2 separate regions of the Homo sapiens genome follow, and region 1 is linked to region 2. The links come from fine-mapping of genetic effects on gene expression. A gene starts in region 2. The other region holds a variant in brackets. All regions are shown on one strand. Distances are between the middles of the regions. Region 1 has its middle 11 kb from the start of HCCAT5. Region 2 holds the start of ZFHX3 (zinc finger homeobox 3).

Region 1 (4,389 bases), 33 kb before region 2:
CAGGAGTTTGAGACCAGCCTGGGCCACATGGCAAAAACGCATCTCTATAAAAAACACAACAGTTAACCAGGTGTGATGGTGCGCACCTGTAGTCCCAGGTACTCAGAAGGCTGAGGTGAGAGGATGGCTTGAGCCCGAGAGGTCGAGGCTGCAGTGAGCCAAGATTGCACCACTGTACTCTATCCTGGGCAACAAAGTGAGACCCTGTCTCAAAAAATAAAAAAAGAAATAGGAAAGGCATGACTACAAAGAAAGTCACTTGACCATGAAAACCACAAGACTTTCCACCATTCATTTACAGCTTTTCACCCTTTGTGTTTTATATATCAGATAATTATTCAGATGTGTTACCAGTTGTGATACAGAAGGGAACCATAATGGAGAGAAAAGCCAGATGTCCCTGTCCAGCCATGTCACATCCTACCGACACACTTTGTGCCATCACAAGAGGTCTCATTAGCAGTAAGCTCATAACTCAGGTTTTATCTGCATGTTATGCTGACTTAGATGGCTCTACTAAGGTAAGGTGTTGGGGTTTTTTTGTTTCGCTTTTTTGAGACGGAGTTTTGCTCTTGTTGCCCAGGCTGGAGTGCAATGGCATGGTCTTGGCTCACTGCAACCTCTACCTCCTGGGTTCAAGTGATCCTCCTGCCTTAGCCTCCCAAGTAGCTGGGATTACAGGCACCCGCCACCAAGCCCAGCTAATTTTTGTATTTTTTTTTTTTTTTTTTTTTTTTAGTAGAGATGGAGTTTCACCATGTTGGCCAGGCTGGTCTTGAACTCCTGACCTCAAGTAATCCGTCCACCTCGGCCTCCCAAAGTGCTAAGATTACAGGCATGAGCCACTGCGCCTGGCCAGGTTTTGTTTTGTTTTGTTTTAAATACTGTTTCCTGTGTCTCTTTGGCCATTACTACAGATTCCAGTAATGTTGTGATGTTTCAGAAACTGTGTCATCCTTTCTGTGATTTCATCACACTGCATTTCAAAGACTGCTTTTATTCTAAGGAGCTGATTTTTATGAGCAGTGACTAAGAGAAACAATTGGGACTGCTGAGATCTGCCCAGGCACACCACTTCCCTCGTGCCTAGGGAGCTTAGTCTTCCAGTATTCACTCCAGGATCTGCTTTCATCTTATACAAAAAAAAAGAAAGTAAGTTAATGGGAATAAAATGTAAAATTCATTCATTTGGCTGGGCACGGTGGCTCACGTCTGTAATCCCAGCACTCTGGGAGGCCAAGGCAGGCGGATCCTGAGGTCAGGAGATCGAGACCATCCTGGCTAACACGGTGAAACCCCATCTCTACTAAAAATACAAAAAAAATTAGCCGGGCGTGGTAGCGGGCGCCTGTAGTCCCAGCTATTCGGGAGGCTGAGGCAGAAGAATGGCGTGAACCCAGGAGGCGGAGCTTGCAGTGAGCCAAGATCGCGCCACTGCACTCCAGGCTGGGCAACATAGAGAGACTCCCTCTCAAAAAAGAGAAAAAAAAATTCATTCATTCAAAGAAAGGTTACCAAGTAGGATCTTGTGCTAGTTACCATGAGATATTTTGAGGCACCTAAGATAAAAGCTCAGAGTTCAGGAGCTCCTTATCTCGTAGTTGAATCAAGATGTAGACGAGGGCTGGATGCGGTGGCTCACACCTGTAATCCCAGCACTTTGAGAGACTGAGGCGGGTGGATCACCTGAGGTCAGGAATTCAAGAACAGCCCGGCCAACATGGTGAAACCCCGTCTCTAGTAAAAATATAAAAATTAGCTGGGTGTGGTGGTACACACCTGTAGTCTCAGCTACCCAGGAGGCTGAGGCAGGAGGATCCCTTGAACCTGGGAGGCAGAGGTTGCAGTGAGCCAAGATCGTGCCACCGCACTCCAGCTTGGGTGATGGAGTGAGACTCCGTCTCAAAAAAAAAAAAAAAAAAAGATGTGGACAAGAACATTTATAATTACAAGTCAAGGGTCCTATGACATAAGTGCCATAAACATCCAGAACAACGTCAC[T/C]GGAAAAAAGGGTGAGTTCTGCACACTAGAGTCCATTGCCTGACCACAGATTCTAGAATGCATGTGTAAATGGCCTGTGAGAACACTTTATTTTCTTTTTTGACAGAATTGGCATCTACCAGTGGAACAGGGAAATAGAGAATACAAAGAAGAGCTGGGCTTTAGTGAGGCATTTGATAATATGGTTAAAGACAATTTGGGCCGGGCACAGTGGCTCATGCCTGTAATCCCAGCACTTTGGGAGGTCGAGATGGGCAGATCACCTGAGTTCAGGAGTTCGAGACCAGCCTGACCAACATGGAGAAACCCCGTCTCTACTAAAAATACAAAATTAGCCGGGCATGGTGGCGCATGCCTGTAATTCCAGCTACTCAGGAGGCTGAGGCAAGAGAATTGCTTGAACCTGGGAGGCGAAGATTGTGGTGAGCAGAGAGCAGAGATTGTGCCATTGCACTCCAGCCTAGGCAACAAGAGCAAAACTCTGTCTCAAAAAAAAAAAAAAGAAAGAAAGAAAGACAATTTGCTCATTTATCTCATGGAAAAGAAGATGAAAGATGAAGTACAAATTAGTTAGTGATTGGTATCAATGTGGAGGAGATTTCTGGTGCTGGGACAGTGAGGTTTTGGTAGTCCATGTGTGATTATCATGACATCATATGTTGCAAGATAAAGAATTCAAAAGATTTTTGATAGACCAAGGCAATGCACCAAATCTAGCAAGGTGAAATGTAACACAAGAAAATGGCAGGTCTTGACCTTGGACCTGAAAACCCATCTGCACAAACTCGGGTGGAGGGAGCCAGGCTTGGTAAGAAGTATTAGAAAAGACCTGAAGCTTTTTTCTTTTCAGACTTTTGGGCACATTTAAGAATCACCTGGCTGAGCACAGTGGCTCACACCAGAAATCCCAGCACTTTGGGAGGCCAAGGCGGGAGGATTGCTTGAGGCCAGGAGTTCGAGACCAGAGCCTGGTCAACATAGCAAGACCCTGTCCCTACAAAATAATGTTTTTAAAAATTAGCCAGGCATGGTGGTGTATGCCGATAATCCCAGCTACTGGGGAGGCTGACGTGGAAGGATCATTTGAGCCCAGGAGTTTGAGGCTGCAGTGAGCTCTGATCATACTACTGTACTCCAGCCTAGGCAACACAGCAAGATCCCATCTCAAAAAAAAAACAAAGAAAAAGTCACCTGGCATAAATGTTTAAAATGTGGATTCCCAGGTGCTACCCCAGATTGTCAGATTCAAGTTTGAGGTGTGGACCAAGAATCTCCATTTATTAAAGTGTCTTAGATAGCTCAGACTGCTATCACAAAATATCATAGACTAGGTGGCCCAATCAACAGACATTTATTTCTCACAGTTCTGGAGGCTGTGATCAAAATACCTACACATTCAGTTCCACCCTCTTTTGGGAGGACACAAACTTTCAGTCCATAACATGAAGCTCTCTGGGTCATTCTGAAGTAGGAGCTCCATGAGCCACACTTTCTGAACCGCTGTCTTAGAGGTTTCAGTTAATGGGTGGAGGCTTTCACAATTGTACTGGGCAAAAGTGTAATGAGGAGAACAAAGAGGTGAGAATCCTGCTGTACTGTGGGAGACAGAGCAGATGTGGATAATTCACATTTAATATTGGGCCATGACATTTTAAGAAGAGAGTCAAACTGGAAACAGGAAGGCAAAGGGGACTCAGAGGCAGAGCCTGTGAAAAAGAGTTGAAGAAACTGGCAGTTCCTAGCTCAGAAAGATCAGACTGAGAGAGGAGGCCAGGACAGGAAAAGGTTGTCTGCATCAGGGAATTAAACTTGCTCTGTGTGACCTCACAAGGTGACACTAAGACCAGTAGGCAAGAACCACAAGGGATCTATTTAAAAGGCTCAAAATAATGACCATCTTCTCTAACAATCAGAGCCAGCTGTCCACAGTGCCAGAGGTGCTCAAGCAAGGGCCAGAGAACACATTTAAATGATTCTTCAGGAAATTGGGTAATGAATGGAAGGATGGCACATCAAAAAGGCAGTAGAACCAAGGCAAGTGTTACTGTTCTTGTTCTTGTTTGATTGGAGAGAATACAGCATGTGTAGGTTTCCAAGTAGAAAGGGAGTAAAGATAGGAGGCCAGGTGTGGCAGCTCACGCTTGTAACCCCAACACTTTGGGAGGCCAGGGTGGGAGGATCACTTGAGGCCAGGAGTTGAAGAACAGCCTGGGCCACATAGTGAGATCCCATCTCTATTTTTAAAAAATTAAAAATAATTGGTTTTTTTTGGAGACAGAGTCTCGCCCTGTCCCAACCTCTGCCTCCTGGGTTCAAGTGATTCTCCTGACTCAGCCTCCCAGATAGCTGGGATTACAGGCATGTGCCACCATTCCTATCTAATGTTTG
Region 2 (4,389 bases):
TGTGTAGCTGGTGCCAGATAAAGAAAAGGAACTCAGGGTCACTCTCAGTTCTACTTGTCAGGCCTCTCAAGTGCAGGAGGCAGGTTGCAGGGTCTGCCTCTTGGGACAGTGGCAGTATTAGGGCAGATCCCGTCCGGGCCTTCTGCCCAGGCAGTGCTGCATCCTCCCAGGTTACTTTAATAGCTTGTTCTTTGGGCTTTCTAGCTTTTATTTTATTGAAGGTATTTGTCTGTGGGCCTACCAGGATCATGATGTCACCAGATTACGAGGTTGTCCCCTGTTAATAAAAATGAAGATAAAGCAGCAAAATTAGATTTTCTGAGAGTATCAACATTTTCTTGTTGTCTTTAATTTATCCAGCAGGCCTTACCTATCCCAGGTAAGGAATCTTCGTTTTTCCGGAGAGATTGCCAGAGGCATCTCTGCGTTGTGGGCCACGTTGCTTGCGGTCCTGCTAGCATACGTCATCTTCATGTCTTATTCATAGTCACTTTTTCAATTAAATTATTAATTGTTTTCTTTAAGGTGTTCTCAACTTATATGGCCAATATAAATAACAGTGTGTTTTGAAAACACCACCTGTTCTTGGGCCTGAAGTCAGGTGGTCTGGAAGCAGCTCTGCAGTGACCATAGTCTGGTTTGCAAACTCATCCTCCACCTTCCCTGTTGGCTCTTAACTCCCCCCACCCGGCCCCCGTGCTCTCACGTGTGACTGAATTGGGCTTGTGCCCTCCTTTGTCCCTAATCGGACATGATTCCCTGGAGGCAGTCTTTTCTCCCAGGGCCTTAGCTGAAATAAATAAATAAATAAATAAATTTCCCCAGAATCTATTCTGGACTAAAATGTAGAAAGGGGCTGTCTGTACCCAACAGGTTAGATACTTACATTAATCTGAACCCAACTTACATTGTGCAAAAAGCCTTCTATACGGGGATGTGATGGTTTTCACCAGCTAAGCATCCCTTTTTCTCCCGAGTCAGTGTGTGCCTCATGCTAATACAATTCCATACATACTGCTCTTCGCCTCATGAGCTGATTATATTTCTAACACTTGCATGGTTCATTATTGTGCCCGAGGAAAAGACTCTCCAGGCTGTAAGGCCAGCCTGGGTGGGTGGTTTTCAGAAAGGGTAAAAGCAGGTGCCTTTCTGTGCTGTGAGAATCGGGAGTAAATTCAGACTGAGGGTGGGATTCTGACAGGGAGGACAGAGGACTTCCGGTGAGATTTCTTTGGGGCTGGCTTTCAGATGAGAATGGAAAAAGGTGGACTTGGGGAGATAGAAGGCGCCCAGCAATCGCTTTGACCAACTGGAAAAGGTGAACTTGGGGAGATAGAAAGGCGCCCAGCAATCACTTTGACCAACTGGGGTGGCCGCTTTAAATCTTACCCTGGCGGTAGGAACTCCCTGGGAAAGGGCACGATCTTTGCTATCTCTGCGGTGATGTGGCTTTATAAGGTGAGGCTAAGGAGCCTGGAGGCTTACATGGTAGACTGCATCTCCTTTTCTTCCCACTTCTTTTCTTCCTATCTTTCTAGTGATCTCTCCTTTTCTCTTTCTCTGGCCTCAAAAACTATCCTTAAACTCTCAACGGAGAGCAGGGGGATGTTTTTATAAGTTTCTGCAACTGAAAAACAGAAGTGCTCTGTAAAGCAGTTAATAGGATGGGTGTGTGTTTCCAATAAATTCCTGTCCACATTGGCTCCTGTCCCCATGCTTGAGTGGCCTGGCTGTGACGTGGACGGGGCCCAGGGAGCGATGGCTCCGGTTCGGAGGCCTCAGGCTCCTTTTAGTGGCCGAGGGCGCGTCCCTTTCTTCTCGCCCGATTCTAGGCCGGCCCCTGACCTTTGATGAGCGAGGGGTCAGCGCCTCCGGGAGGGCCTGGGCTTTGTTCCCGCCGGGGCCGGTTCCCGGGGCGGCGCAGGCCGAGCGGCGAGGGTTCCTGGCCCCAGGCGGGTGCGCGGGACCCCCGGCCTGCCCCAAGGCCCGCGCCCCAAGCGGAGCGAGCGCAGCTGAGCGCCCGGGTCCCGCGCGTCCCTGTGCGTCCCCGGGTCCCTGCGGGCGGGCGGGCGCGGTCGCCGCCGAGCAACCCGGCCTGCGCCCGGCACGACTGTAGATGTCAGGCTTTGCCCGGGGAGCCGAGCGGCAGCGGGGCTGTGAGTTTCAAATTAACCTTCCGCTTTGTTGCTGTGTAATGTGGATCCCCGAAGGCCCCCCGCCCCGCCCGCCCCCCTTCCCCGGGCGGTGCGCGCTGCAAACTGCGAGTTGGGCTTCATTTACATAAAGCGATTCCGGGCGGGCGGCGGCAGAGGAGGAGGCGGCGGCGGCGGGCAGGCCGGGGACCCGGACGCCAGCGCCGCGCCCCGTGGGTGAATCCCCGCCGCGTCCCGGGGACCTCCCTCCGGGGACGGGCCGACCGCCAGCCCTGCCGCCACCATGAGCTCCCCTCCCCTGTCTCCGGGCCCCCTGCTCCTGACCAGAGCCACCTCCGAGTCCTGGGGCCAGCGGGAGGTGGGGAGCATGCCGCCTGGGGTGGGTGAGCTCGGGGCTCGGGTGCCACTGGAATTTCCCGTTGTTGCGCATGGCGGCGCGGCCCCCGGACCTGCAAGTGCCGCCTCCCTCCGGAGGTGCGCGGAGGCTTGGTGTGCCAGGTGAGTGCAGCCTCCCTCCGGGTCCGCGCAGCCGGCCTGGAGCCGCGGGCAGGTGCTGCGAGTCTTGGCTGAACTTCCCATTCTCTTGGGGCGTGTGGGGGAAGGGCAGGCTGGATGCACTTGAACTCCCAGACTCCAGTTGCCACCTACCTAGGGTGAGAGCGCCTAAATTCTGCTGGGCACACAGTAAAGCTCTTCCTTCCTCCTTCCTTCCCTTCCCTCTGTCCTCCCCTCCCTCCTCCTTTCCTGAGTCTGCTTTTGGATTAGTTCCTGCCTTCTGAATACTTGTGGTACTGGTGTCATTTAGAAGTTTGGGTGCCTCCGCCTAAAAATGCACCCTTTTCAGCCCTGGAGAAGTCGCTGGTCAGTTCGAAACAATGTGAAGAATGCGCTTGTGGAGTAATTAAAGGGAGAATCAGAGTTTTGGAGCTGGAGGGCACCTTTGGAGATCATCTTGTCCACCCTCTAATTTTAGTTTTTTCGCACTCTTGGAAAAGTCAGAGCATTTATTTCCTTGGGCAGGGGCGGGGTGGGGAGCTGATGCAAAGGAGAGAGTCAAGATTTTTATCCTGTTAGGAGGAGGAATGCCTATGTTTAGGTCAGTAGCAGAAAAACAATAACAACAAAAAGAAGCATTGTAGGCTTGGAGGGAAACGAACCTTCTGGAAAATGTTCTTTTCTGCCTTGGACACACCTGTGTTATGATAGGAAAAGGCCTGGAGGGCAAAGACTGCAGCTCACGCATGGTGTGTGCTAAGAGGGAATTGCGTGGCACAGTGGTACCTCCTGTGTTAAACTGGCTTAAGTGAAAGCCGTGAGCAGGTGAATCCAGGAGGGTCATCCCTCCCCCCACCCTCTGTGTCATTTAACAGTCCTTGAAGACTCCCTAAAGCCACTGACAGAAAACCCCAGAGAGAACAGATGGCTCTGCCTGGGCACAGAAGGAAGGCCTCTCCTTCATACTGGGTCCTGCTTGTCAGAATGCACCAGGGCAAAGCCTTGAAGGTAGATTGTGAGAAAGTTACACATCATCTTATTTCTCTCTATGCTTTGAGATCCTTGGAGACAAGTCACTAAATAAATAGTGTATAATTTAAAGCTCACCCTAGCTGGGGAAACTCTGTTTCCTTGCCGTCAAGCAGCAGGTGCGAGTTTGTAGAGTTGGCCCCTCGAGTTCCCTCATTCCTGAATTCAGGAGGTGTCAAATCTTCACGTTCAGTTAATGGCTGTGGTTTCTGGATAGGTTTCAAGGGAAACCCTGAAAATCACGAGTTCCAGGAGGCTGGGCTGGAGGAGGACACGAGAGTGCTGTGGTGGGGACTGCATTGGGTAGGAAAACATACACCTTCCAAGGTAACCTGATCAAGAAAGGCCGTAGCAAGAAACATGAGTCTGCTCCTTGTTATCAGAACAGCCACTGGCAGCCTGAGATTCTGAATCCCTCTTGCTACTCAAACATGAAAAACAATGAAGGCAAAAGTGAGGTGTGAGGGAAGTCAGGAGACCACGGTTCCAAATAATTGAAGGGTTTCAAGAATGGGGTCTTCACAGAGAGGTACATACCTGGATGTTTGCACGCCTGTATTTGTGTTCATTCTGTTTTGCAGAGACCCTGCAGGCACCCTTTCAGAGAGTGTGTAGCTATGATGGCCAAAAGAAACTTTTTCTCTCTCCCTTTGCTAAATTACAGGACTAAGGAGTTCTCCTCATGGTGTTTCCAGCATAGTTTTCAGAAAGC

What was found. PIP is the estimated chance that this variant, and not a neighbour inherited with it, causes the effect.
Region 1: its variant is the best candidate, but not a certain one, in a credible set for the expression of ZFHX3 in whole blood (INTERVAL, PIP 0.89).

The regions. Positions count from the first base shown.
Region 1 is chr16:73,079,370-73,083,758 of GRCh38, reverse strand. It overlaps a transcript of ZFHX3 not described here. Among named protein-coding and RNA genes, the nearest start is that of HCCAT5, 11 kb to the left of the region's middle. The variant T/C (reference allele first, on the strand shown) is at 2,002.
Region 2 is chr16:73,046,014-73,050,402 of GRCh38, reverse strand. It overlaps ZFHX3 (zinc finger homeobox 3), which reads left to right and starts at 2,275. Exons shown (of 10, transcript NM_006885.4): 1 at 2,275-2,651. It overlaps LOC124903719 (a long non-coding RNA gene), which reads right to left and starts at 2,825. Exons shown (of 2, transcript XR_007065116.1): 1 at 2,603-2,825; 2 at 1-277. RefSeq lists enhancers at 1,374-1,909, 2,446-2,981 and a silencer at 1,835-2,684.